5 separate regions of the Homo sapiens genome follow, and regions 1, 3, 4 and 5 are each linked to region 2. Evidence: fine-mapped expression QTL. A gene starts in region 2. Each other region holds a variant in brackets. All regions are shown on one strand. Distances are from middle to middle. Region 1 has its middle 42 kb from the start of JAK2. Region 2 holds the start of JAK2 (Janus kinase 2). Region 3 has its middle 27 kb from the start of JAK2. Region 4 overlaps JAK2 (Janus kinase 2). Region 5 holds the start of MIR101-2 (microRNA 101-2).

Evidence for each region.
Region 1: its variant is fine-mapped to the expression of JAK2 in whole blood (TOPMed, PIP above 0.99).
Region 3: its variant is fine-mapped to the expression of JAK2 in whole blood (INTERVAL, PIP above 0.99).
Region 4: its variant is fine-mapped to the expression of JAK2 in whole blood (TOPMed, PIP above 0.99).
Region 5: its variant is fine-mapped to the expression of JAK2 in tibial nerve (GTEx, PIP above 0.99).

What each region holds. Positions count from the first base shown.
Region 1 is chr9:4,940,460-4,945,593 of GRCh38, forward strand. It overlaps the pseudogene HNRNPA1P41. Among named protein-coding and RNA genes, the nearest start is that of JAK2, 42 kb to the right of the region's middle. The variant C/T (reference allele first, on the strand shown) is at 2,042.
Region 2 is chr9:4,982,983-4,988,116 of GRCh38, forward strand. It overlaps JAK2 (Janus kinase 2), which reads left to right and starts at 2,290. Exons shown (of 25, transcript NM_004972.4): 1 at 2,290-2,648; 2 at 2,958-3,040. RefSeq lists silencers at 243-372, 1,823-1,872, 1,913-1,992, 2,383-2,712 and enhancers at 1,341-2,174, 2,103-2,242, 3,043-3,092.
Region 3 is chr9:4,955,843-4,960,976 of GRCh38, forward strand. No RefSeq gene overlaps it. Among named protein-coding and RNA genes, the nearest start is that of JAK2, 27 kb to the right of the region's middle. The variant C/T (reference allele first, on the strand shown) is at 2,626.
Region 4 is chr9:5,077,161-5,082,160 of GRCh38, forward strand. It overlaps JAK2 (Janus kinase 2), which reads left to right. Exons shown (of 25, transcript NM_004972.4): 15 at 293-420; 16 at 1,146-1,284; 17 at 3,069-3,220; 18 at 3,373-3,523; 19 at 4,565-4,701. It also overlaps a transcript of INSL6 not described here. Among named protein-coding and RNA genes, the nearest start is that of JAK2, 94 kb to the left of the region's middle. The variant T/C (reference allele first, on the strand shown) is at 2,088.
Region 5 is chr9:4,849,030-4,854,163 of GRCh38, forward strand. It overlaps RCL1 (RNA terminal phosphate cyclase like 1), which reads left to right. Exons shown (of 9, transcript NM_005772.5): 8 at 418-521. It overlaps MIR101-2 (microRNA 101-2), which reads left to right and starts at 1,268; the gene lies at 1,268-1,346. LOC124902113 (a long non-coding RNA gene) reads left to right here and starts at 1,338. Exons shown (of 2, transcript XR_007061402.1): 1 at 1,338-4,233; 2 at 4,785-5,134. The variant A/C (reference allele first, on the strand shown) is at 1,979.

The sequences.
Region 1 (5,134 bases), 43 kb before region 2:
ATCCAGAGATTAAAAAAATATGCCTACGGTTTGCACTTCTCACAGGAAAATTATTCATAATAGTGAAAAATTAGTCACAGCCTAAAATCTAACAACAGGAAATAGTTTAACTAGATTATGGTGCATCCACTCAATGGAAGATTATACAGCCATTTCAAATAACGATTATGAAAAAAACATTATATGTAATCTATATTGTCCTAGTGGAAATATCTTAGGTAAGTCAATGGTAGCGAATCAGAAAAATATTGAGACTCAGTAGTTTTTAGCCACATGAAAAATTCTTGCAGTATATAAAAAACAATGTATACAAAGAAATGCACCAAAATTATTATTATGACAGAAAAAGGGTGGGAGAAGTGTTTTTATATTTAATCAAGAGCTGTACTGTATAACTGAATTGTTTGCCAGCGGAGCAGAAGGCAGATGGCTTGGTTAAACTCACACATTCTTGCCCACTCCAGCTATTTTTATAAGGCTCTTACGGTTTTAGGATTTTCTTACATTTTTGTTGATTCTTGTACTCTATTTACTTCTTCTCCAACTTCATTATGGAATATTATCTAGTGTTTATTATTTGTCTGGGGTCCCCATTGATATTAGCAAAAAACACTGGTCATTGGGTTGTACTTGATTATTTGAGTCTTCAAAGCTCCTTGTCATTGCATATTGCGGGACTGAGAGTTAATATAAGGATATGATTCTATCAATCAATTTTCACAGATATATATGTCACTGAACACGAAATATGGGATATATTAGTCAGCTATTGTTACAATGCTGAGTAATAAACAGCTCCAAAACTCAGTGGCTCATAAAAATAAGCCTTTATTTTCCTTGTTCATGAGCCTGTGGATGATCTGGGATGCTCTGCTTCTTTTGCAGGACAGCTGGGCTTATATCAAAGCCTCAAGTTGGGATCAGGCCTGCTTCACATGTTCCCAAATCCCATTAGCTATCTGAGGCATATTCTTCTCCTGGTGGATTATGAAAGGCAAGAGGCCAAGTCAGGAGAATTGCTTGAACCCAAGAGGCAGAGACTGCAGTGAGCCGAGATTGTGCCACTGCACTCCAGTCTGGGTGACAGAGTAAGACCCTGTCTAAAAAAAAAAAAAAAAAAAAAAAAAAAGAGGCCAAGTCAAACTACTTAAGGCCTATGCTCATGTGTGCTATCATTTAATTGATCAAACCAAATCACATATGTAATTATGCCCAACATCAATGAGAGAGGGAAATAACTCCCATTAGAAGTTCACCTGACAGAAGGAGGGGGTAAAGAATTGAGAGCAATGATCTAATGTACCATAGGGACAATGTACAAACAGATTAATTTAAATAATTGGAAAGAAATACCTACTGACTTGCAGAATAGGTAGGATTATCTCCATGTGTGAAAAATATCCTATTTTTCGATTAGACTAATGAAAACTTAATAAAATAGTTGTTACCATATATTTCTTTTAAAGAATATGCAGTATCAATATATTTTAAGGACAGCTAAACATCCTGGGTGTTTAGCCAAGTAGAAACTGGTCCAGCTTTGACTATCCTGGGTGTTTAGCCAAGTAGAAACTGGTCTAGTTGTAAGTGGATTTTTTTGTTGTTGTTTATTCTTGGGGACCGAGTCTCGCTTGGTCACCCAGGCTGGAGTGCAGTGGTGCGATCTTGGTTCACTCCAACTTCTGCCTCTGGGGTTCAAGAAATTCTTGCGCCTCAGCCTCCCTAGTAGCTGGGACTACAGGTGTGTGCCACTACACCTAACTATTTTTTTTATTTTTATTTTTTGTATTTTTAGTAGAGATGGGGTTTCACCATGTTGGCCAGGCTGGTCTTGAACTCTTGACCTCAAGTGATCCACCCGCCTTGGCCTCTCAAAGTGCTGGGATTACAGGCATGAGCCACTGTTCCCGGCCTGTAGGTGGATTTCTGGCTTTGGGTTACACACACACACTTGTTTATAGGAGTTTGTAAGTAGGGAGTAAAATGTACTCTGAAAGGAAATCACTTGATAGGAACCACTATTTGGTAAGAAGAGGTGACT[C/T]AAGAAAAGAAGTTCCTTGTGGTTTTAAACTTTATTATGCTCCAGGTCCCTACAAAAATATGCTTTCTTTCTCCTTCTTCTTCTTCTTTTTTTTTAATAAGCTGATTTAAGGCAAAAGCTTTTAGCTAAATGTTACTGCTTTAAATTTTTCAAAACGAGAACACTTCTCAGCAAAATTTTTTATTTCTTTGTTTTAGTGTAGAAAGCAAAAGCAAGGGATAACTAAGTCTGAGTTCAAGCTAGATATATTTGTTTACATTGGAACAACAGCTTTAAAGTCTAGGAAAGAAGTGCTGATAGCTCAGAAGAAAAAGCAAGTAATGGGTTCCAGTAAAGTTGGTTAGGGAATTTTGTTTGTTTAATTTTTAAATTAGTAGGGGCCTTTCTCCAAAATGTTTGTTTTTAAGATTCAGGTTAAAATTTGCATAGATACAAGAGATGTGGGAATTAGTCAATATCAGAGAAAGATGCTGAGGTAATTTCCATTTCAGAAAATTTATCTAGCTTTGCCTAAATGGATAAATGGAGACATTTGAAGCATAAGAGTTTGGCATTTCATGTCCCAGCTTAGAGGACTTCCACTTGAAACAGAACAATTGGTTTGAAGCACAGTATCTAGATCCTTTCTCCAAAGAGAAAGAAAATTGCCCATTCAACCAGCAATTATCTCTAATTAAGGAATGGAAGCACAAGTTTTCGGTAGTATCACTACCTGGCAGTCTGCATGCAATCAAGCAAGGCAAGGTTCCTATATCCACAGGAGTTTTTTCTTGACTAGAAAAAAAAATTAGGATAATTAAGCAAGTTGTAGCAATCATTTTTTACGATCAAAAAGACTGCAACAGATTTAATTAATTCTTTGGTAGATGCAGAAAGTAGTATTTATGCTTTTCTAAAGGCCAGTATTCACCGTGGACTAACAGCAAAATGTTTCAATACCATCTCAGCAGAGTCTGTATTTGATTTCACAGTATTCTGTAAAGTGTCAGGCATTTTAGAGATATCGCTAACAGAAAGGTTATGCTTTCTAAATACAGTCACACAACTACTTCGTACCTATGATATAATTAGACTGTGACACTCTTGAGGACATCTAAACTTCAACCTGTTTAAAAATATAAATCCCTATGAACGATCAAAGAAAATGTGCTTCAGGCAATTTATCTGCAGTAAAATGATTTAACTATGGGACAATCATGTTCATTTCTTCATATCTTTAATATAAAGTTTACCATTTAAAATGATTTCATTGCTTAGCTGGAAAGCTATACTCTACTGACTAGTATAAGATTTTTTAAAATCTTGTTTGTTTCTTCTTCAGAGAAATGGTAGAGTTTTTAAAATAAAAAGTGCATTTATTTCTTTATAACATTAATATCTGTCACTATAAATAACTTGAAAAATCTTCCAAAGTGTCAACACCTGAAGTCAATTGTGTGTTTCCTTTCAGGTTTTTTTTTTTCAAGAGAATTAAATCGTTTATTGATTATGCATGATAATGGAAGGTACACAAACTTCATTCCCATCTATAATTTTATTGGGTACCATTATTCAATTTAGATATATTGCATAGGATATGCCAACAATCGTTTTAATAACCAATAATTCCATGATTTTGCTTTGCTAATCCCTTTTAATGGTGAACTTCAGGTCACAACAGTAACTATCAGTTCAACCACACCAAGGTTTCTGAAGACAATGGTTTCTCCACCCAAGCAGGTTGTATATAAATTCCAAAAAGAACCTGGCATCACCCTGAAGGAACTCTAACTTCACACTGTAGGGGAAATTTACCAAGATGGCTTCAGAGTAGAACAACTTTACACAGCACATTAAAAAAAAAAAAGACATTTATTCAGCGTCCCAATCAGGCTATTATATTTAGCAATCAACAGCATAGGTGAAAAAAAAATCTACATTAAAACCCTTTGTTGGCATGGTTTACACTTTCCACAGAACAGAAACTAAAATAACCTGTTACACAATTAGTCACAAATACAGTCCTCGAGTTTTTTGCCCACACACATGAGTATTTGTCTAAAACATGTCTGCTTTGTAGCAGCTGGGCCCTGCCACCACTGTGCTTGGCTGAGTTCACAAATCTGTTGTAACCTGTAGCTTCCCTGTCACTTCTCTGGCTCTCCTCTCCTGCTAAGCTTTGTTTCCTAATTAAAATCTTCTGCCACTGCCATAGCTACTGCTGCTACTGGAACCACCATAGCCACCTTGGTTTTGTGGTTTGGCAAAGTATTGGCCTCCACCACCACAGGGGACAGAGCTTCTGCCTCCAAAGTTTCCTCCCTTCAGGGGTCCAAAATTTGGAGACTGATTGTTGTAATTGTCAAAATCACTGTAGCTTCCGCCACCTCCAAAATTGCTTCCATCATTACCAAATCCACTGTAGTCATCCCCAGCCACCATATTCACCACCACCACAGCTGCCACCAAAGCCACCACGACCATGGAAGTTTCCTCCATGACCCAAGTTGTCATTCCCGCTGAAACCACCTCCATGACCACCACCAAAGTTTCCAGAACCACTCTTGCTTTGACAGGGCTTTCCTAGCTTCACAGCTGTGGCCATTCAAGTATGCTATTTCTGAATGACAGTCTTATCCATGGAGTCACCGTTGTCAAACGTTACAAAGGCAAAGCCCCTTTTCTTGCCAATGCCTCGGTCAGTCATGATTTCAATCACTTCAATTTTTTCCATACTGTTCAAAATGATCCCTTAGGTGATGTTCTTCAGTGTCTTCTTTAATGCCACCAACAAATATATTTTTCACAGTTAACTGGGCACCTGGTCTTTGAGAATTTTCTCTTGAGACAACTCTCTTTGCTTCTACAACTCTTTTTTTTTTTTTTTTTTTTTTTTTTTTTTTTGAGATGGAGTCTTGCTCTGTCGCCCAGGCTGGAGTGCAGTGGTGCCATCTCAGCTCACTGCAAGCTCCGCCTCTCGGGTTCATGCCATTCTCCTGCCTCAGCCTCCTGTGTGGCTGGGACTACAGGCGCCTGCCACCACATCTGGCTAAGTTTTTGTATTTTTAGTAGAGACGGGTTTCACCGTGTTAGCCAGGATGGTCTCGATCTCCT
Region 2 (5,134 bases):
AGGCTTATGAATAATATACCCCTTGTCCACCTTGTCTTCCATACCCACATCTCTAATATTAAGAAAATAACCTGCTCCCCCACAAAAATATCCTCAATATTCACCACTTCCAAATGGCTTCTCCCTGCAATTCACCAATTTCAAATGGCTTCTCCCTGCAAACAGGCTGTGGACAGTAAGAGATACCATGCCTAGTTACATAAGTATATCACTGCAAAATATAGAAACATCACTTATAATGAAAGTAATACTGTTTCAGAGTTCTAAAACAAGCATTTTCTTCCCCTCACAAAATATCACATTTCCATTTCCACAGTTGTGATGCTTTTCATTTACCCATGACGTTAAGCTCATCTTTAGCTCTTCTTCATTATGTGGGTCTGTGTTCTAGCTTTTACCTCAGTAGCAGTTTTTGTTTGCAGGAAAAAAGGAACTCTTTTGGTAGTCACTGTTTGTAATTGCGGCCTTGATATTCTAAGCCATTGAGTCACAATTAATAATTAGAAATTCTTACTAACTTTGCCCATATATTACCTATGAAGCAGTAGCCGTAGGAATGCAATTTTCCTGTAAATCCCTCCCTCTTATACAGCTCTAGTTCATTATTTAAAAGATTCAGGGTGAATTCAAGTAATTTCCTATGCTGCTATCATTTGCTTAAAGACCTTTTGCAATGGGTCTTATGTAAGAAGAAATGCAGGAGTTGCTTTGGTGAGGTTTATTTAAAGAAACCATTAAGTGCAAGACAGACCTGAAGAGCAGCATCAGTTGTGTATGGGGAAACAGGAGCTATGAATGCGTCACTTCATTTAGGTTGACAGAAAGAGGGCTAATACTTGAAAAAAATCCCTACACGATCTGGTGCCAGGCTACTTCTTTGGCCTCACCTCTTACCACTGCCCCCTCCTTCCGTGTCCTCCAGCCACAGTGACCTCTTTCCTGATCCTTGAACTTGCCAAACACTTTCCCTTCTCAAGGTCTTTGCCTTCAGGAGTCCCTCTGCCTGAAATTCTTTTCCCAGATAGTCATGGGACTGGTTCATTCTCATCCTTCAGATCTCTGCTCAAATGTCACTTATTCTAGGAAATCGTTCCTGGCCACCGTAAAATAGCACACCCCCTCCTCACTTTCTACTCCTTTTCTTTGTTATTATGTATATGGCAGCAGAAAACTATGCATTTTCTTAGTGGCAATTACACACCCCGCACATTATGCATTTAAAGCGTTGTTTGTTGTTTTGTCGCTTCCATCAGAATACAATCCAGTAGGGCAAGGAGTGTGTGGGGTCGTGTTCACCTGGTATCTCTGGGGACCTACAGCCCGGCACCTAGTAGACACTCAGTAAATATTTGAATGAATGAATGAGGCCCTTTGGCAGCCGGGAAGCCCGTCACAGCCGTTGTCTCCACCCTCTCCCGGGCTACACCAGGCCACGCCGGTAAAGTTGTTTCTCCTCTAGGAGAAACATTCGCTAGGCCTTGTTGCCAACCCGCAGGCGGCTGGGCGCTTCATCCCACCCTCACCCCTTTCCAGCCAAGGTGGCTGATGGGAGTCAGGCTCTCGAGGGCGCATTGCCACGAAACAGCGTGTGTGAGCGCGTTGTCCCCGGCCCCCGGCGCCACTTCCCCTCGGCCTAGCAGCCTGGACTGGGGAAGGACGGGTCTGCTGTACCCGGGAGGTGGAAGGAAAAGCCGAAAGCGGAGAAGTGTGCGGGAGGGGAGTCTCCGCGCGGAGGCAGCCCGGCCTCCTCCAGTGCAGGCTGCGCGCTGGGGAGCCAGCCAGGGTGAGTCACTCCCGGCCGCTTCCCTGGAGGGCGGCGGCCACACACACACCCGCCCATCTAGTGAGGGCCGGGCCCAGCGCTGGCGCCTAGCTCCAGCCGGGCACCAGCGTTTCGCGAGGCGCCGCCGCCTTAACTTCCTTGCGCGCTCACGCCCAGGGGCCGTCCCAGGAATCTCCACGCGCGCTCGCCGGCTTCCCGAGAGGCAGCTGCCCTGCGTGGCCCGCGCCTGCCGGTCCCGCGACCAGCACCGAGCGGCGCACGCGCACTGCAGGACGCGCGTCCGGCTCTCCCCCAGCCTCTATCCGGCCCGGTCTCCTGCCATTCGGGGAGACTGCAGGCCAACCGGGAGGCTGAGTTCGAAGCTAGCAGGGCGGCGAAGCCAGTGTCGCCCGCGGCGTTGAGAAGACGGTGTGGCCCCGGAGAGGGTGGAGACAACTGTGACGGGCTTCCCGGCTGCCCGAAGTGGGAGTGGTGTGGGGCTGCAGGAAGGAGAGAGGAAGAGGAGCAGAAGGGGGCAGCAGCGGACGCCGCTAACGGCCTCCCTCGGCGCTGACAGGCTGGGCCGGCGCCCGGCTCGCTTGGGTGTTCGCGTCGCCACTTCGGCTTCTCGGCCGGTCGGGCCCCTCGGCCCGGGCTTGCGGCGCGCGTCGGGGCTGAGGGCTGCTGCGGCGCAGGGAGAGGCCTGGTCCTCGCTGCCGAGGGATGTGAGTGGGAGCTGAGCCCACACTGGAGGGCCCCCGAGGGCCCAGCCTGGAGGTCGTTCAGAGCCGTGCCCGTCCCGGGGCTTCGCAGACCTTGACCCGCCGGGTAGGAGCCGCCCCTGCGGGCTCGAGGGCGCGCTCTGGTCGCCCGATCTGTGTAGCCGGTGGGTGTTATCTCTGCCTGGCTTCTGGGTGGGGGGCAGCAGCTGTCTCTCCACCCCCTTCCTACCTTTTGGTCCCGCCTGCCCCCTGCTAGTGGCAGCAAACTTCTGAGCCAGAAAAATCTTCCTCTTTAAGACGACACCTAGAACGAGTCTTGCTGGTGATATTTGCTTCCATTTGTGTCTTATAATTCCCTCGCTCCCGCCTCCTTATTCCTTTTTAAAATTTTCTAGACACTTAAACAGCCTAGAAAAAGCATTTGTTTCCCCTGGATTTATGTGGTAGTAGTTAACTGCTGCTTCTGTTTTTAGGTTTCAGAAGCAGGCAACAGGAACAAGATGTGAACTGTTTCTCTTCTGCAGAAAAAGAGGCTCTTCCTCCTCCTCCCGCGACGGTGGGTGTGCTGTCCTTTATCGCTGCAGTAAAGGCGAAGGTGTCTGGAGCTGGGAGTGCGTGCGTAGGGAAGGTTGGAAGCGTGTGAAGAGAGGCAGGGCTCATTGTTGCTTACTCTTCTGAAAATGTCAGTGCTAAACTTTTAATGTTGATCTGGGAGAGTAATTTTGGGGTGTTTTGTTGTTCGTCTTGGATCCTTTAAGAAACATTTTTTTGTTGGCTTTACACATAACGTGACTTTGCAGAGAAACGAAAAACGTTGTCCATTACCCTTTCTTCTTAAGCAGCCAGAGATTCTTAATCCTTTAAAGAGGAGTATTTCCAAGCAATAAGAGATAGCTTTTGGGAGAACACGTTAGCTATTCTTGCTGGGGTTTCTGCTACCACATTGAATGTTTCCTCATGGTTTTATCTGCCTAAGCTTGCTGTGTCGGTTGAATTTACCCAGTTTGTTTTCCAGTAATTACTAATCTGTTAGGAGAAACTCCATTTCTCTGAATGAAAGGGTAGGAGCGGCTGAGTATGGAGAAGGAAACTGGAAGTGGGAATAAGGGAAATGATTGCTTTTGGTTTCATAATAAGTTTGTACAGTGAGTTGTTGGGCTACTGCAAATAAAGATTTTGTATCCCTTCTCCAGAATGCTTGGGACCAAAAGTGTTTTGGATTTTTTTTAAAAATTTTGGAATGTTTGCATATACAAAATCAGACATCTTGAGGATGGGACCCAAGTGTAAATACGAAATTCGTTTGTTTCATATAGACCTTATTCACACAGCCACTAAGTCATTTGCAATATTTTTAATACGTCTGTGCATGAAACAAAGTTTGTATTAAGTACCTATGCGGGGAATTTTCCCCTTGTAGCATCATGTTGGTGCTCAAAATGTTTCAGATTTTGCAGCTTTTCAGATAAGGGATGATCAGCTTGTATTTTGATATAACACCCAGAACATTTGAAGATGAATAATCAATTTTTGGCCTCCCTTCCCCCATCCGCCTCACCTTATACCACTTTAAGTGTGAGAATTATTTGCTTGTACATGCATTTGTCTGTTGGTGTGTAACGTATGTACAGACTGGATGTATCCAGCACTTGCCTTAATAGTACATGTATTTACCTGAATAGGAAAGCTGCAGTACTTGCTGGCCAGAAGAGCACACCATGCTTGTTTTTGCTCTAACTGAATATCCTGTATTTGCAATTTATAGCAGTTTTAGGGACTCATTAGGGAATTTTGTGTGTGTGTGCCTTTGGTGATTTGAGACAGGTGTCTCAGATATGGGAAGGGAATATGACATTGTTTCTCTTTCACCTGGCTATTACTGAAAGGTGGGATGCTTTTGAGGCAGAATAGGAAAGTGCATTGGCTTTGGAGTGAGATCTGGATTTGAATCCTGGTGTTCTTGCCACTTAAGAGTTGCATTATTTACGGCTGGTCATGGTGGCTCACGCCTGTAATCCCAGCACTTTGGGAGGCTGAGGAAGGAGGATCACTTGAGGTGAGGAGCTTGAGACCAGCCTGGCCAACATGGTGAAACCCCATCTCTACTAAAAATACAAAAATTAGCCGGGCGTGGTGGTGCACACCTGTAATCCCAGCTACTCGGGAGGGTGAGGCAGGAGAATTGCTTGAACCTGGGAAGTGGTGGTTGCAGTGAGCCGAGATCTCACCACTGCACTCCAGGCTGGGCAACACAGCAAGACTCTGTCTAAAAAAAAAAAAAAAAAGAAAGAAAAAAAGAGTTATATTATTTACGACTCTTTTAGCTTCACTTTCTTATAAGATTGTTGTGAGAAGTGAGTAAGACACATGCAAAGTGGTAAACTGCCTGGCTGTCATAAAAGTCTTGGCTACTATCACGGCTGGGAGGCAAAGGAGATTCAGAGAAGGGCAGAATGACTGCATAAGGTGATCTGCCTGTAACTCGTGTTTCCTCCTTTCTAGTATAAAGAGATAAAGGACTTCAAGGTCTTAAACTGGTGAGGGAGTATTACAGCCTTTGTATGGAAAGGTTTGACTTTGTGTCTCTGCTTAAACCCCCATTGTGTTGCCCCTACCAATTATTGTGCTGCCCCCTTGTGGTTAACTGTGC
Region 3 (5,134 bases), 27 kb before region 2:
TAAATTAATAATTTTTATTGATTCATCAAGAATATTCTTAAGTAAAACTGGTTTCTTCTTTTTTTTTTTTTAAACTGAGTTTCTAATGGTATAAAAGACAGTAATTGTTAAGTGTAGTTTGGTGACACTGCCTTGACTCATGCTAAGGCCCCAGCAGTTTGGTCCACTATTGTTTTTGCCCCATTGGTGTAAATGTCAACACAGTAAAAAAAAAAAAAAAAAGGCAAATATTATCTTCATATTATTTTGATCCCTAGGGGTCCGTGACTCATGTTTTAAGAACTATGGGACTTTCATGTTCTTACATGCAATTTTCTTCATATTTATCATCTTTGGAAGTTTTTCATATTCTCGAATCTATAAATTTATGCTTTCACTAAGTGTGGGAAATTTTCAGTGATTATTTTATCAAATACATATATTTTTTCTATTCTCTCCTTTTTTCTTGTGGGACTTCATTAGATAAATGTTAGAATATTTGATACTGTACTCTAATCCTTGAGGCTTTGTTCTCTTTTTTCACCAATGTTTTTCTCTCTTCTTCAGCTTGGATAATTTCTACCCACCTATCTTTAAGTTCAGCAACTTATCTTTCATCTTATGCTTTTAAGTTCACCCAGAGAATTTTAATTTTTTAAAAAAGAGAATTTAGGCCAGGTGCGGTGGCTCACACCTGTAATCCCAGCACTTTGGGAGGCCAAGGCAGGTGGATCACTTGAGGTCAGGAGTTCAAGACCAGCCTGGCCAACATGGCGAAACCCTGTCTCTACTAACAATACAAAAATTAGCTGGGCGTGGTACGCACCTGTAATCCCAGCTACTCGGGAGGCTGATGCAGGAGAATCCCTTGAACCCAGGAGGCGGAAGTTACAGTGAGCCGAGATCATGCCACTGCACTCCAGCCATGGTGACAGAGCAAGACTCTGTCTCAAAAAAATAAAAAAAAATTTTTAAAGAGAATTTGCGGCCGGGCGCGGTGGCTCACGCCTGTAATCCCAGCACTTTGGGAGGCCGAGGCGGGTGGATCATGAGGTCAGGAGATCGAGACCATCCTGGCTAACAAGGTGAAACCCCGTCTCTACTAAAAATACAAAAAATTAGCCGGGCGCGGTGGCGGGCGCCTGTAGTCCCAGCTACTCGGGAGGCTGAGGCAGGAGAATGGCGTGAACCCGGGAAGCGGAGCTTGCAGTGAGCCGAGATTGCGCCACTGCAGTCCGCAGTCCGGCCTGGGCGACAGAGCGAGACTCCGTCTCAAAAAAAAAAAAAAAAAAAAAAAGAGAATTTGCATAATCCCATTTTTTTGTATGCAGTCCTTTAATGAATTTAACAATGCCATACTTATTGCATGCATACACTTTCAGTTTTCTATTACTCTTTGAATAAATTAGGTTATGTCTTTTTAGAAATTATATATATAATTTAGAAATTTTATATTAATAAATAATCGTGTATATTTATAATGTATAGTGTGATGTTTTGATGTATGTATACATTGTAGAATGATTAAATCAAGCTGATTGACATATCCATAACCTCATATATTTTTTTTGTTGTGAGATAATTTAAAATCTACATTCTTAGCAGTTTTCAAATATATATTCAAATATACAATATAATTTTTTCACATAGTATATTTTTACTTCTAGAAAAAGTGTTTTGTTCCTGTTTATAGTTTTTATTTATTTAATGAGTATCCTATCTATCCATTCATTAAAAGCGTATTTTTCCCTCACATTTTTGAGCATAATATAATGGCTGCTTTAAAATTCTAGTCTTTATTCTTACAGCTAGATCATTTTGGGGTCAGGCTCCATTGATTTTTTCTTTGTATTATATCTTTGTGGGACTAGTAATTATGAATTTATCCTGGACAGTCACACCCCCCAAGGCCTGAGCTGAAGTGGCACATCATCCTCTGGGGAATTGGTGCCCTGGCCAATCTGAGCAACTGTGCATCCCAGAGATGAGATGATGTAGTACCATGCGTCCCAGGGAAGTAGGGCAGTGACTGAGCTGAGACACAACACTTATAGGCCAAATAACTCTACTGCCCTGCTTTCCTGGAGCTGGACTAGCTCTAGAGTCTGAGCTACAGAGACTCTGCTCCCTGGGGAGAGCCCTGCCCCTCTATCCAAGAAGTAGAGTCATTGTTCCATGCCCCACAGGGCTCAAAGGACAGCTGTGCTCTGCCATTTTGGGGTACTTGTTGCCATTGATCCTGGTTTCACAGAGTCTAGGATACTGCTGAGTCCCACTATCCCAGGGTCTAGAGTCACCACTGTATGATGCTTCATCCTTTGGGATATGATTTGCTACTGAGCCTTATGACTCATATTCCCAAATTGCAGCCATACCCTGCTCTGTAGGCCCAAGCCTCCAGAGTACCCCTTCTTCCCCTGAGCCAGGCCAGTGCTTTGCCCTGCCCTCCAGGGGTAGAATCACACGCTCCATGGGCCTGAGCTGCCAGAAGATGCCTGAGAGTCACAGAACCTGAGTCTGTGGGCATGATACATCCAACCTGGCCACAGAGAACAAACCTGAACCCTAAGACCCAGGTGCCACAGTGGGGTCACAAGACCCTAAGCTTAGGTCTGTGTGGCCCCTCAGCCACCCTGAGCACCTGCA[C/T]CTGGAACTCAGAGCCTCTACAACTGCTTATAGGCCATGTCAGACCTGACACTAAGAGGGATCCCTTTGGCTAAGTCTCCATGTTGTGGGGAATCCCAAAATAGGAAGACCCTAAAAACTCTTGCCACTAAAGATATCAACAGCTTTCACTGCTGCTGTCACTGCCCCAAACTTCTTCAGCCTAGGTTAGTGTTAATGAATTAATTCAGCAAAGTTTCAGGATACAAAACCAACATGCAAAAATCAGTAGCATTTCTAGACACCAACAATGTACTAATGGAAAAAGAAATCAAGAATGCAATCGCAGTTATACTAGGTACAAAAACACCCCTAGGAATCAGTTTAACTAAGAGGTGAAAGATCTCTAAAAGGAAAACTATAAAACACTGATGAAAAAATTGAAGAAAACATAAATAAATGAAAAGACATGCCATGTTCATGGATTGGAAGAATTAATATTGTGAAAATAATCATACTGTCAAAAATGATCCACAGATTCAATGCAATCCCTATCAAAATACCAGTGACATTCTTCACAAAAATAGTGAAAATATAACAGCTGTACATATTTACAGGGTACGTGTGATTTTTTATATAGGCATACAATGTTTTGATCAGGGTAATTGGGGTATCCATCACCTCAAGCATTTATTATTTCTTTGTGTTAGGAGCAATTCTGTTGGCCAGTTTCTCTGGTGAAGTGCTTCTGCTGGCCAGAATGCAGAGCCACCACCAAAATTTGCATGTTAGCCACTATGAGCCCCGCCCCAGATGGCCTATCCCTGTTGATAATACCACCACCACCACCTCTGCCTGCCCTATGTTCCCCATGGGGCAAGACAGGAGTGATCTGTCTTCAAAGGGCTCCAGACTGGCGAGGAAGCTGAATGTTTGCCTCCAACTCTCTTTTCCCACAGTGGAAACTGGACCTAGGGGAGTTCTCTCTGTGTGGTGCTGTGCAGGCTTGGGGGAAGTATACTTTTCAGTCAAATTGAAGCTATTCCTTTTACCCTTTGAATGCAACTTGTCTCCATTCTCCTGTCCCAGAGGATGTCTCAGCCTTACTTTCAAGTTCTGAGGTATTCACAAAGGAATTCTTGTCCATGGATAGTTGCTAGTTGGATTTCTGTGAGGGAGACTGGAGCCAAAGAACTATTCTGACAACTTGCTCTTAGATCAAGCTTTCTTGTTTTGATTTCCTTCTCATTTCTTTTTCTGTATATTTTAAAGTTTTTTCCTTAGTGGTTATCTGGAGATTACAATTAATATCTTAACTTTACATCAGTAAAGTTTAAATTAATACCAATACCTTATTTTCAATAGTAGGTAAATACTGTACTCCTTTCCAGCCCCATCCCTTTCCCCTTTCTGTTGTTATTGTCACAATTATATCTTTATACATTGAATGCACATTAACATAGCATTTTAATAATTGTTTTATTCATTTGTCATTTAAATCATATAGAAAAGAGTTATAAACCATATATGCAATACTATTGTCCTTTATATTTACTTATGTAGCTACCTTTACCCTTGTTCTTAGTGTCCGTCCCTTTCACCCTGGAGGAGTCCCTTTAACATTTATTGTAGGGCAGGTCTACTACTGACAAACTCTCTCAATTTTTATTTTATATTATGAATATGTTTTATTTCTCCATTAAAAATAGGCTTTGTTTTCTACTCTGGTGGCTGAGGCACAAGAATCCCTTGAACCTGGGAGGCACAGGTTGCAGTGAGCCAAGATTCTGCCACTGCACTCCAGCCTGGGCAACAGGGTGAGAACGAGAGACTCCATCCTCCACCCCCACCCCTGGCAAAAAAAAGGCTTTGTTTTTAATAGTAGTAGTGAGCATTTTGCATTCCTACCAGCAATCAATGAGTTCCTGTTACTCTACATCCTTGCCAGCATTTGGTGCAGTGAGTGTTTTGGAGTTTGGTCATTCTTATAGGTAGGTAGTAGTATCTTATTGTTTTAATTTGCAATTCCTAGTGAATCTATATGTGTCTTTGTATTTAAAGTGCTTTTTTTATTTTGTAGACAACATATATTTGGGTCTTATTTTCTTTCTTTCTTTCTTTGTTTCTTTTTTGGTGGGGGACAAGGTCTCACTCTGTTGCCTAGACTGTAGTGTAGGGGCATGATCGTAGCTCACTGCAGCCTCCAACTCCTGGGCTCAAGCAACCCTCCTGCTTCAGTTTCCCCAGTAGCTAGGACTACAGGCAAGTGCCACCACACACAGCTAATTTTTAAATTTTGTGTAGAGACGGGGTCTCACTATGTTACCTAGGCTGGTCTTGAACTTCTGGTCTAAAGCAATCCTCCCATCCTGGCCTTCCTAAACACTAGGATTACAGGCATGAGCCACTGTGCACAGCCTAGGATCTTTTAATTCACTCTGGTAATCCTTTTAGTTGGTGTATTTAGACCATTGATTAGTGATTATTAATATAGTTGGATCAATTTCTACCATATTTGTTACTGTTATCCATTTTTCCATTTGTTTTTTTC
Region 4 (5,000 bases), 94 kb after region 2:
CAGCCATAATTCAGTACTAATATATAAAGGTGTGCTGGTATATTATATATTATACATTTATGTTATATATAATAATATATAATTGTTTAGACTCCTACTCTTGCTGTTGTAAGTAAACTAAAAACCAAAAATATAATGCTGTGTATCCATTAAGTTTTCTTTAAAGTTGTGAGTTTTGCCAATTTAATTTCTTTACCTATAATGGTCACATGTAAGTATAAAGATTTAAATTACATATATTTAATTATATTTATACTTAAGCCTTATTATTATTACTTATATTTTAATGCAGATATTCTGGTTCAGGAGTTTGTAAAATTTGGATCACTAGATACATATCTGAAAAAGAATAAAAATTGTATAAATATATTATGGAAACTTGAAGTTGCTAAACAGTTGGCATGGGCCATGCATTTTCTAGTAAGTAGTACAACCTTTTTATCAAAAGATACTATTTTATTTTATAAAACAATATACAAATTATCTTTACCTGGAAACAAAAAATAAATCTGTAATTGGATGCCAATTCATGTAAAATAGTCTGTGTTAGGTGATAAAAAGAGATTACTTTAGGCATATGTTTATGTATGTAAAATCACTTTTGAAAAAAAAGTTTTGTCATCCCATCAATATCTTAGAACTACTAATAGACAATCTGTATGTTGTGTCTTTTGGATTTAGAAAATTCAACCAAAAATTATGCAGAAGTATGTGCTTCTGTATTTTTGGGCCATTGTACATTATGGTCCATGAGAAAGCGGTGTTGACAGAGAAGAATACCAGGGGGACTGCCAGTCATCAGACCCCTCAGGGTGCACCTATGTCCTGCTGCAGAACTGAAGTAGTATTTCTTAATGTCAGCTCCCATCCAGAAACACAAACCATGTCAGCCTTAGAACTCATGTGAAATGGCATTGGTAGTTTTAATTTATTCATTTCATCACAAGCATAGATTATTGTGTTATTTAAAATGTAAAACAGGAAGCATAGGAGTCATAAATTTCCTTTTTTCTCAATGCATGCCTCCAAATTATTATACTATCATGTATTTTTCTTCTTTAAATCTGTTTTGGGGGCTTGAACATACTAAATGCTCCAGTACTTGTGGACTGATATTTGAATATATGTGCGTTTAACTCTAATAGGAAGAAAACACCCTTATTCATGGGAATGTATGTGCCAAAAATATTCTGCTTATCAGAGAAGAAGACAGGAAGACAGGAAATCCTCCTTTCATCAAACTTAGTGATCCTGGCATTAGTATTACAGTTTTGCCAAAGGACAGTAAGTTCTAGAAGGATTATATATAATGTTACTAAGCTTTACTTGGGCAGTGGTGTAAAGGGCATGTTGTTAATTTTCCTTGAATTCCATTTAATTTGTATGTTCCTGATTAATAATAAAATTATCACTTTTAGCAATTTAAATTGTTAGTTAAATCTTAGTCTCTATTTTTCTTTCTTATAAGCATATAACCATGGACTGTGAGGTGATTTTTTAAAAACAGTTTTAATCTCTAATTATGTATGAAGGATAGGATTTTATCCATTTTTAGTATGAAGTTTTGTAATATTCCTTGAGCCACAAGTAAATTTTCTAAATATTCTTTTCTTCTCGTCACTAAATAAAAATTTAGCCTGAGATTTTAGGATTTTTTTCTATCCTCTGTGAAGAAATTAGTTTAATTATCCAGCTAATTCTGACTTTTTAAAACCTTAAAAAAACTTTGATTTGTGTTTGTTCATCTTTACTACTTAACACAGTGGGTTAAAAATACAAATTTCAGTCAGATAGTTGAGAGGGGTTTTTTGGGTCTAGATAATTATAACTGAATTTTGTTATCTTAGATAATTTCTCTAATTGGATGTTCTAAATTTAGATTCTAAATTGATCAATTTTTGTGCACTGATGTGTCCTATTTAAGCTAATAGTACTTAAACTTAATGACTTATCTGACAGTGAAGACAGTGATAACTGGGCAGTAGTACAGGAGTAGGGAGTATGGCAGAAAATTCTTACAGGGTCTTACATCTGGTATCCTGGAAAATTTTATCCTTTGGAATCGGAAGTGAAGATGGAAAAAAATG[T/C]ATTCATATGGTGAAGGTATTTGTCAATCAATCTATTTGTCTGTCTGTCTATGTCAGAATACCAGAAAGTAGGGTTATATTGCTTCTTCCTTTCTTGAATACAGTCCTTCTGGTGGAATCAAAGACCACAGAAACTTTACTTGAGAAATTCCGTGATTTGAGCAGAGCCCACCTATATCAATTCCATATATCTAGAATATTTTGGTGCAATTTAGCCTTCCATCTGCCATAAATGCTTGTTGGTCCTTGGGTTTTTTTTTTTATCTGCAAGTGGGAATTGCCATGGCTATTAAATCATTAGAACATCTCTGAATGATGTAACATTACCTTTACTACTTACGCATTATGAAGAAATACCAAAAAGTATCATGGGGCAATTTTAGGATAAACTATATAAAAAAAAAAGATTTGGCCAGGTGCAGTGGCTCATGCCTGTAATTCCAATGCTTTGGGAGGCTGATTGCTTCCTAAAGCGCTTGGGTGGATCACTTAAGCCCAAGAGGTCAAAGCATAGTGAGCTGCAATCGTGCCATTGCACTCTAGCCTGAGTGACACAGTGACACCCTGTCTCAAAAAAAAAATTTTTTTTTTTTGAAGGTAAAACTAATGGAAAGAGGTTGAGAAAATGGTATGCCAGTTGAGACACTATGGTTTAATGGAAAGATTAGTTGATTCAGAACTCACTGTACAGGATTCTAATTCTGTCTCTGCTGCTAACAAATTGTGTGGCTTTGGGCAGATTACTCAATCATATGTCTCCATGTTGTCATTGTTAAAGATGAAATATTGAATTAGATGATCTTGAAGGTCCCTTCTGGTTCTTAAGCTTATGCAGTCATGTGCATGTGCACATCCAACCCCTCCAAAATAAAGAAAATAGGCCTGATTATTCAAATGATTTGAACTTTAAAGCTATTTACATATAAAAGATTGGTTTACTTGTGAATTATTTAACCCTACTCTGTTCGTATCATTTAAAAGTTCTTCAGGAGAGAATACCATGGGTACCACCTGAATGCATTGAAAATCCTAAAAATTTAAATTTGGCAACAGACAAATGGAGTTTTGGTACCACTTTGTGGGAAATCTGCAGTGGAGGAGATAAACCTCTAAGTGCTCTGGATTCTCAAAGAGTAAGTTTATATAGACTAAGTTAGAATTACTCTATCTCTGAACTTTCATATTTCTTTCACATGATTTGTATTTTTTAGCCCATCTAATTTTAAAAAGAAGGTTGGTGTGGCATTACACAATTTATTCTCAGTTTGTGGTTCTTTAATTATAGAAGCTACAATTTTATGAAGATAGGCATCAGCTTCCTGCACCAAAGTGGGCAGAATTAGCAAACCTTATAAATAATTGTATGGATTATGAACCAGATTTCAGGCCTTCTTTCAGAGCCATCATACGAGATCTTAACAGTTTGTTTACTCCAGGTATGTATTTGAATGATCTTATTGATTTTCCAGCTTTCTATCTTTATTGTATTTAATGAATCATTACTAATTTTTAATTCCTTTAAAACATTTTCTTGATGTCATTTGGGCCCTCTTAATTTCTTATGTTCATATGGCTTTTCATGCTTTATACATATTCTAATCTCCTTGACTGAGAATTATTTTCATTTTTATAAAAAGACCTTTTCTTTTTTTTTTTTTTTTTTTTTGAGATGGAGTCTTACTCTGTCGCCCAGGCTGGAGTGCAGTGGCGCGATCTCGGCTCACTGCAAGCTCCACCTCCAAGGTTCACGCCATTCTCCTGCCTCAGCCTCCTGAGTAGCTGGGACTACAGGCGCCCGCCACCACACCCGGCTAATTTTTTGTATTTTTAGTAGAGACGGGGTTTCACCGTGTTAGCCAGGATGGTCTCGATCTCCTGATCTTGTGATCCGCCCGCCTCGGCCTCCCAAAGTGCTGGGATTACAGGCTTGAGCCACCGCTCCCAGCCAAAAAGACCTTTTCTTTCAGTAACCTAATTTTAGTTTTCCATTTAGTGAGTTGTAAATTATAGTATTTTTTTTTTGCTTAAATTGACTTTTAAAAAACAATTCTCTTTAACATTTCTCATATTTTATAATTGATTGATTCTCTAAACATGAGCTGTATTTGTTTTGCTTTGTTCTCTCCTTTTTCAAAATACTGAGCTGAAATGCATGTGTTTGACCTATAGGTGCTTTCTACCCCAGTACTACTCACCTTTCTCACAATAAGTATCAGTATATTACCTTACTTTATGAATACTAAAACTTCTTATTTTGGAAAACAAAATTTTATCCTTTGCAAAGTCTCTCTTGAAGGCCTGTCAGATTATGGGTAATGATTAAAGGCTCCCATTAATATAATTGAAACTATTTGAGTTTCCCTGTATCATTTAGTATTTTTAACTCACGATTATTTTGGTCAACTTGAATGTATATCAGTTTAGTCCAGAGAATGTTATTTGCTAATTTAAGGTGATAATATTCTTTATTTCTCCAGATTATGAACTATTAACAGAAAATGACATGTTACCAAATATGAGGATAGGTGCCCTGGGGTTTTCTGGTGCCTTTGAAGACCGGGATCCTACACAGTTTGAAGAGAGACATTTGAAATTTCTACAGCAACTTGGCAAGGTAAATTGTCAGAATTTTTTCAAATAGAGTATAATCATTTCATTTAGGAAAAACTTAAGAGCGTTTCTAAAGTTCACTTTCTACAACATTTTAAGGAGTGCTTGTAGAAAAAAAAGGTTTGGTTGTCAGATGTTGGAGAAATGCTGTGTTAAATAAACAGCTATCTTTACTGAATGAAGGGGGCCAGCCCCTCCACACCTGTGGGTAATTCTCGTCAGGTGGGACCAGAGACTGAGAAAAGAAAGAAGACACAGAGACAAAAGTATAGAGAAAGAAAAGTGGGCCCAGGGGACCAGTGC
Region 5 (5,134 bases), 130 kb before region 2:
TAAATATGAGCGTCATCCACTTAACCCTTGGAATTAACTCTACATCTTCTAGAACTGATTAAGATTTTTTTTTTTTTGCATATACTCAATAAAGATGATGTCCTCCTGCTGCTGCTTTAATGATAAAGGGAAAGTTTCATTTTTTTTTTTTTTTACTAGATTCACTTAAGAAGATTTGAATCTGATAGTCTCATTCTGATAGTCTCAACTATTACAGTTGCTCTAATTAACTGTTAGTTTAACCCTCTACAGTTAGTTGATACAATGATTACTCTTATAAGACCTGTATTCTGTTTTATTGTTGCTTGAACTTTGGATTTTGATATTATGAGTGTATGTTTCTGGTTTTTTTTTTCCTCCTCTCTTTTGTTGGCTTTCCATTTTCTGGTTTGTACAATTATTAATTTGTGTTTACAGGGTGGATGCGTAGACTCGACCAACCAAAGCCTGGCGCTACTACTCATGACCCTTGGACAGCAGGATGTTTCCAAAGTCCTGCTAGGCCCTCTCTCTCCCTACACGTAAGTTATTCTTTTTCAACCTCGTTATTCTGTCCAGTGTAATTTTCTCATTGCCCAAAATGACAAAGGGTGTTGTGCTGCACAGAGCCTGCACTATGAACACCTGCTTGTGTTTATCCTCAAATCAGCCAGCAGTTGTCACTCTTAACCTGGTGTTTATTTTTACATACAAGGATTTTTGCATTTCTTTCCTTCCTTAATCCCAGGTAACTGAAATTGCATGATCTCTATTGGGCAGTTATTTTGTTCGTGCTTTAGATTTTGTTTCCAGGTTAGAGGTAAACTCCTGGTTTGGTGTAGCTTGGATTTTATTACTAGTTTTTTTTTAATCATTCTTTTCCTTAGCTGTCTAACTTGCTGTGGGAAAACAGGCTTTTTGTCTAAGATGATAGGATATGAGCTCACTGGGAAAGATGACAAAAGACAGAGTTTGTATTAATGCTACTGGACTAGTAGGGAATTGTAGAAGTGAGTTTGGATTGTTGAATGTTAGCAGAAGTTGACTGCTGTGGTGTAAAAGCAAGCACTCTTCAAAAAGAACAGTGTCAGAAGACTTGAATTATAAATGACACTGTGAAAGAAGCATTTCCTATTGATAGTAAATGAGGTTGCGGAAAACAGCCTATTTGAGTACTGACATTGTGTGTGTGTGTTTTCACGTGCTTGCATACTTGGAGATCATCATATGGCCCATCTGAGGTTGGTGAGCTGGGTGGCAGGGAATATTCAGGTAGATATGAGACTGAACTGTCCTTTTTCGGTTATCATGGTACCGATGCTGTATATCTGAAAGGTACAGTACTGTGATAACTGAAGAATGGTGGTGCCATCACATTGAGAAAGGGTTGAGGACTGCGGTGGGGCTATGCACCCTTGGGCCATGGCGTTGGGGGCATGAAAACCAGGAGCTTGAAATAAATTCTTATGGAGGCTTTTTTTTTTCTTTTTTTTTTTTTTTTTGGAATTCGTGGTGGGAGGTTTTTTTAGAACAGGAAAATGGAAGAGAATACATTCTGTTAGCAGAGAGGGAAGACTGATAAGCAGGAAACTGGTAAGGACCACATTATCTCCTGATAGCTTGTGTAAAAGTATTTCGTAGGACAGGATACCTAAAATTGAGTAATCCTAAATGGCGTGGTAACATCAGTAGTAAACAATGCTAAAATAGACTTGGTAGTTAAGTACTTGGAGAGGAGATGAGGGCTGGAAGAATGGCACCCTAGGTACAGAGACTCGCTTCCTGTAGAGAGCTCACTGGAGGCGGCTGCCAGCTGTGTGGCCACTGTGGCCCCACCGGCTTTGTAGCTGGGCTCGTAGCTGCCGTTTCCCAGCCCTTGCTTCAGGCCTGGGGAAGTCCTGCTTGCACACACGGTATGAGGTATGGGGTGTTGTCTTGAATGTGTGTGGTCCTGGGGCATGGGGTTTGGCAGAACATTCTGTGAAAATGGAATACATAT[A/C]TGTTTTTTTTCGTGACACTTTTTTTCTTTTGCTTTTGGAGATTTTTCAATTTGGCTCCAGGACCTGTATGATGTTTTCAAGCTTTGCAGAGATGCTCAAGATATGACTGGACATTTTTGAAAGTTCCTGTGTCCTCTTCAACACATCTTCTCACCAAACATTAATTGTAGTGTCTTTTCTTCCAGAAAACTTGCATAAAATGACTTCCTCTCCTGTGAAAACAGTGTCCTGCTCTGAATGGAGCTTTAAAGGAGTAGCACAAATTGTAAGATGATGTATCTTGAGGCTGGGGCTTAGAGATATTCTGCTGCCTCCCAGAGCTTTGTGCAGACGGGTCTGCCAGGGTGGGAAAGGGAAGCCTCCGTTCTTTTTGGTAAGCTAGCATAAAGACAGGTAAGGGAGTCTATTTTCAAGAAAGCTGGATCTGTTTCATACTCTTTCTGCCCCTAATCACTATGGACAGCTCCAGCAGCACAAAGAGATGAAGGGCAAAGGCAGGATGCAGCAGGCAAAGTTAACATTGTATTTGTGAGTACAGTTGAGGATAAAAAAGGGATGAAATCCACGGTGAGGACCATCATGGTGGGGGAATAGTTTATTCTAATGGATTCAAGAGCTTTGGAGACCAAACTAACACATTTATTTTTATGTGTAGTTAAAGTCATAGAAACCTGTTTTGTGAAACCTCAGATTTCTAAAGAAAACCAGAAGCAAGACCTTCCTTGGTTTAAAAAAAAAAAAGCATTTCTTCAAGCAGTTTGGACCTGTTTTTCGTGTGTATAAAACAGCTTTTTAAATGTCTATGTAAAGAGCATTGGGATTGCTGTTGGTGGTTTTCTGTGCTACTTGAGAAAGTAAGTCTGTATGTGTGAAACTCTTTTTTTTTTTTTGAGACAGAGTTTCGCTCTGTCGCCCAGGCTAGAGGGCAGAGGCGCAATCTCCGCCCACTGCAAGCTCCGCCTCCCGGGTTCAACGCCATTCTCCTACCTCAGCCTCCCGAGTAGCTGGGACTACAGGCACCCGCCACCGTGCCTGGCTAATTTTTTGTATTTTTAGTAGAGACGGGGTTTCACCATGTTAGCCAGGATGGTCTCGATCTCCTGACCTCGTGGTCCACCCGCCTTGGCCTCCCAAAGTGCTGGGATTGCAGGCCTGAGCCACCAAGTCCGGCCAATGTGAAACTCTTTTAGAAAGGCCCAAGAGATTTTTTTTCAGTAGAATAAAATACTGTTGGATAATCACTGGTATATGAAGATTCTATTTCTGTTAAATTTGTTGAGTTTTAGGTGGCTTACAGTTAGTGACAGTAGTTGCACCCTCCATTCAACAAGCTTAATTTTACAGTTTAGGGAGGGAGGATTTATACTTTTGGATTAACAGCAAGAAAAATAGCAAAAATTAAGATGCATCTTAATTAGCACTTTCAGAAATTATTTGTGGAATGAGACTGCAGTTACCAGAGCTCTCTGCATTCTGCCAGTGCACAAGTCTTGGAGTCCAGCCTATCTGGACTTAAGGCTCTACCACGCGCTACCAGGAGACCGTGGAAATGGTATTTAGCATCTTGGAGCCTTGGTGTCATTTGTAGATAAGGTGCGTGGTCCTGAAGTCCTGGACTTGTGGAGATGGAACGAAGCTTAGATTAAGTCAGATGCTTAGTGCTCCTGGCAACGTGCCTGAGGAGCTGTCAGTGCTGGGTGCTGTGGTTCCTGCCTGGACACCCCTTCACCCTGCTGCAGTCCAGTCCCTTGGTCAGGTCACTTTTTTTTTTTTTTAACTGCTCCTTGAGGAGCAGGACTACCCCAGAGGCAGTGTGGCTAGAGTAGCCCGGTCAGGTCACTTTGAACCCCAGGAGGCCTAGTAAACTTGCTTTGGGTGATTTTAGGGTTTAAGTCATCTGTAAGTGGTCTGCCCAGCTACCTATAAATCTATATCCATTAATTTTAAATTATGGATTAAAAAATTTTAATTTCTAGTTATTATTTTTATGACTGACTTCCCCTAGTCACATTACTGAGCAAACTACACACATCTTATTGATCCTAAGAATTCTGTAAGGTAGATGTTTATTTAAACAACACCGTGTTTACTGTGTGCAAGATGTTGTTTTAAGCACTCAGACATAATAACTTATCTGGTTTTCATCATAACTTCATAAGGGCAAAAAAGGCAAGTACTATCATGTGCACCGTCTTACAGGTGATGGGATTGAGGCACAGCGAGGTCAAGTTACGTGCCCAGGGTCACACAGACAGTAAGTGGGGTTCAGACCTGGACAGTCTCCTCCAGTCACTGCTTCCCTTACCCACTGTGCTCTTTTTTTTTTTTTTTTTGAGACGGAGTCTCCTCTGTCGCCCAGGCTGAGTGCAGTGGCGCGATCTCAGCTCACTGCAAGCTCTACCTCCCAGGTTCGTGCCATTCTCCTGCCTCAGCCTCCTGAGTAGCTGGGACTACAGGCGCCCGCCACCATGCCCGGCTAATTTTTTGTATTTTTAGTAGAGACGGGGTTTCATCGTGTTAGCCAGGATGATCTCGATCTCCTGACCTGGTGATCCACATGCTTCGGCCTCCCAAAGTGCTGGGATTACAGACGTGAGCCACCGTGCCCGGCCAACCCATTGTGCTCTTATGTAAGAGCTGGGATTCCATCCATATCGCTGGACTCCAAGCACCTTGCCTGAGGCAGGATGCCATGCTACATCTTTTCAGCAAAGTCCTCGTTTCAAATTCTGCTGTAAAATGATCTCTTTCTATCTTTAGTTGGAAATCTAAAATAAACCGTGACTTTTTTTTTTCTAACTTTAGTTAATGACCTTTTTCCATGACTGTGGAAGTGCTGAGGAGCTAGAGGACACTGTCCTTGTTAAACACCAACTGAGTGGGGCTTCCTAGCCCACTCAGCCTAAAGCTCAGCCCTCTGAAGAACCAATGAGGAAACCAGTGGGGAAACTGGGAACTGCCGGCCAAGCCTGCCTCTACTTGGGGTCAGTGGCCTCACTGCATTCCATGAGCTTGCACAGTACCACTATGTCTTAGTTTTGTGAAGCGTTTAAATTCTGTAAAGCCCTGTCACCTGATGTTTGAGCCCTAGAACATAATTGGTGTATGGTAAAAGCAAGTGATAGCCTTCCTTCTCAGATAAAAAAGAGGTCACT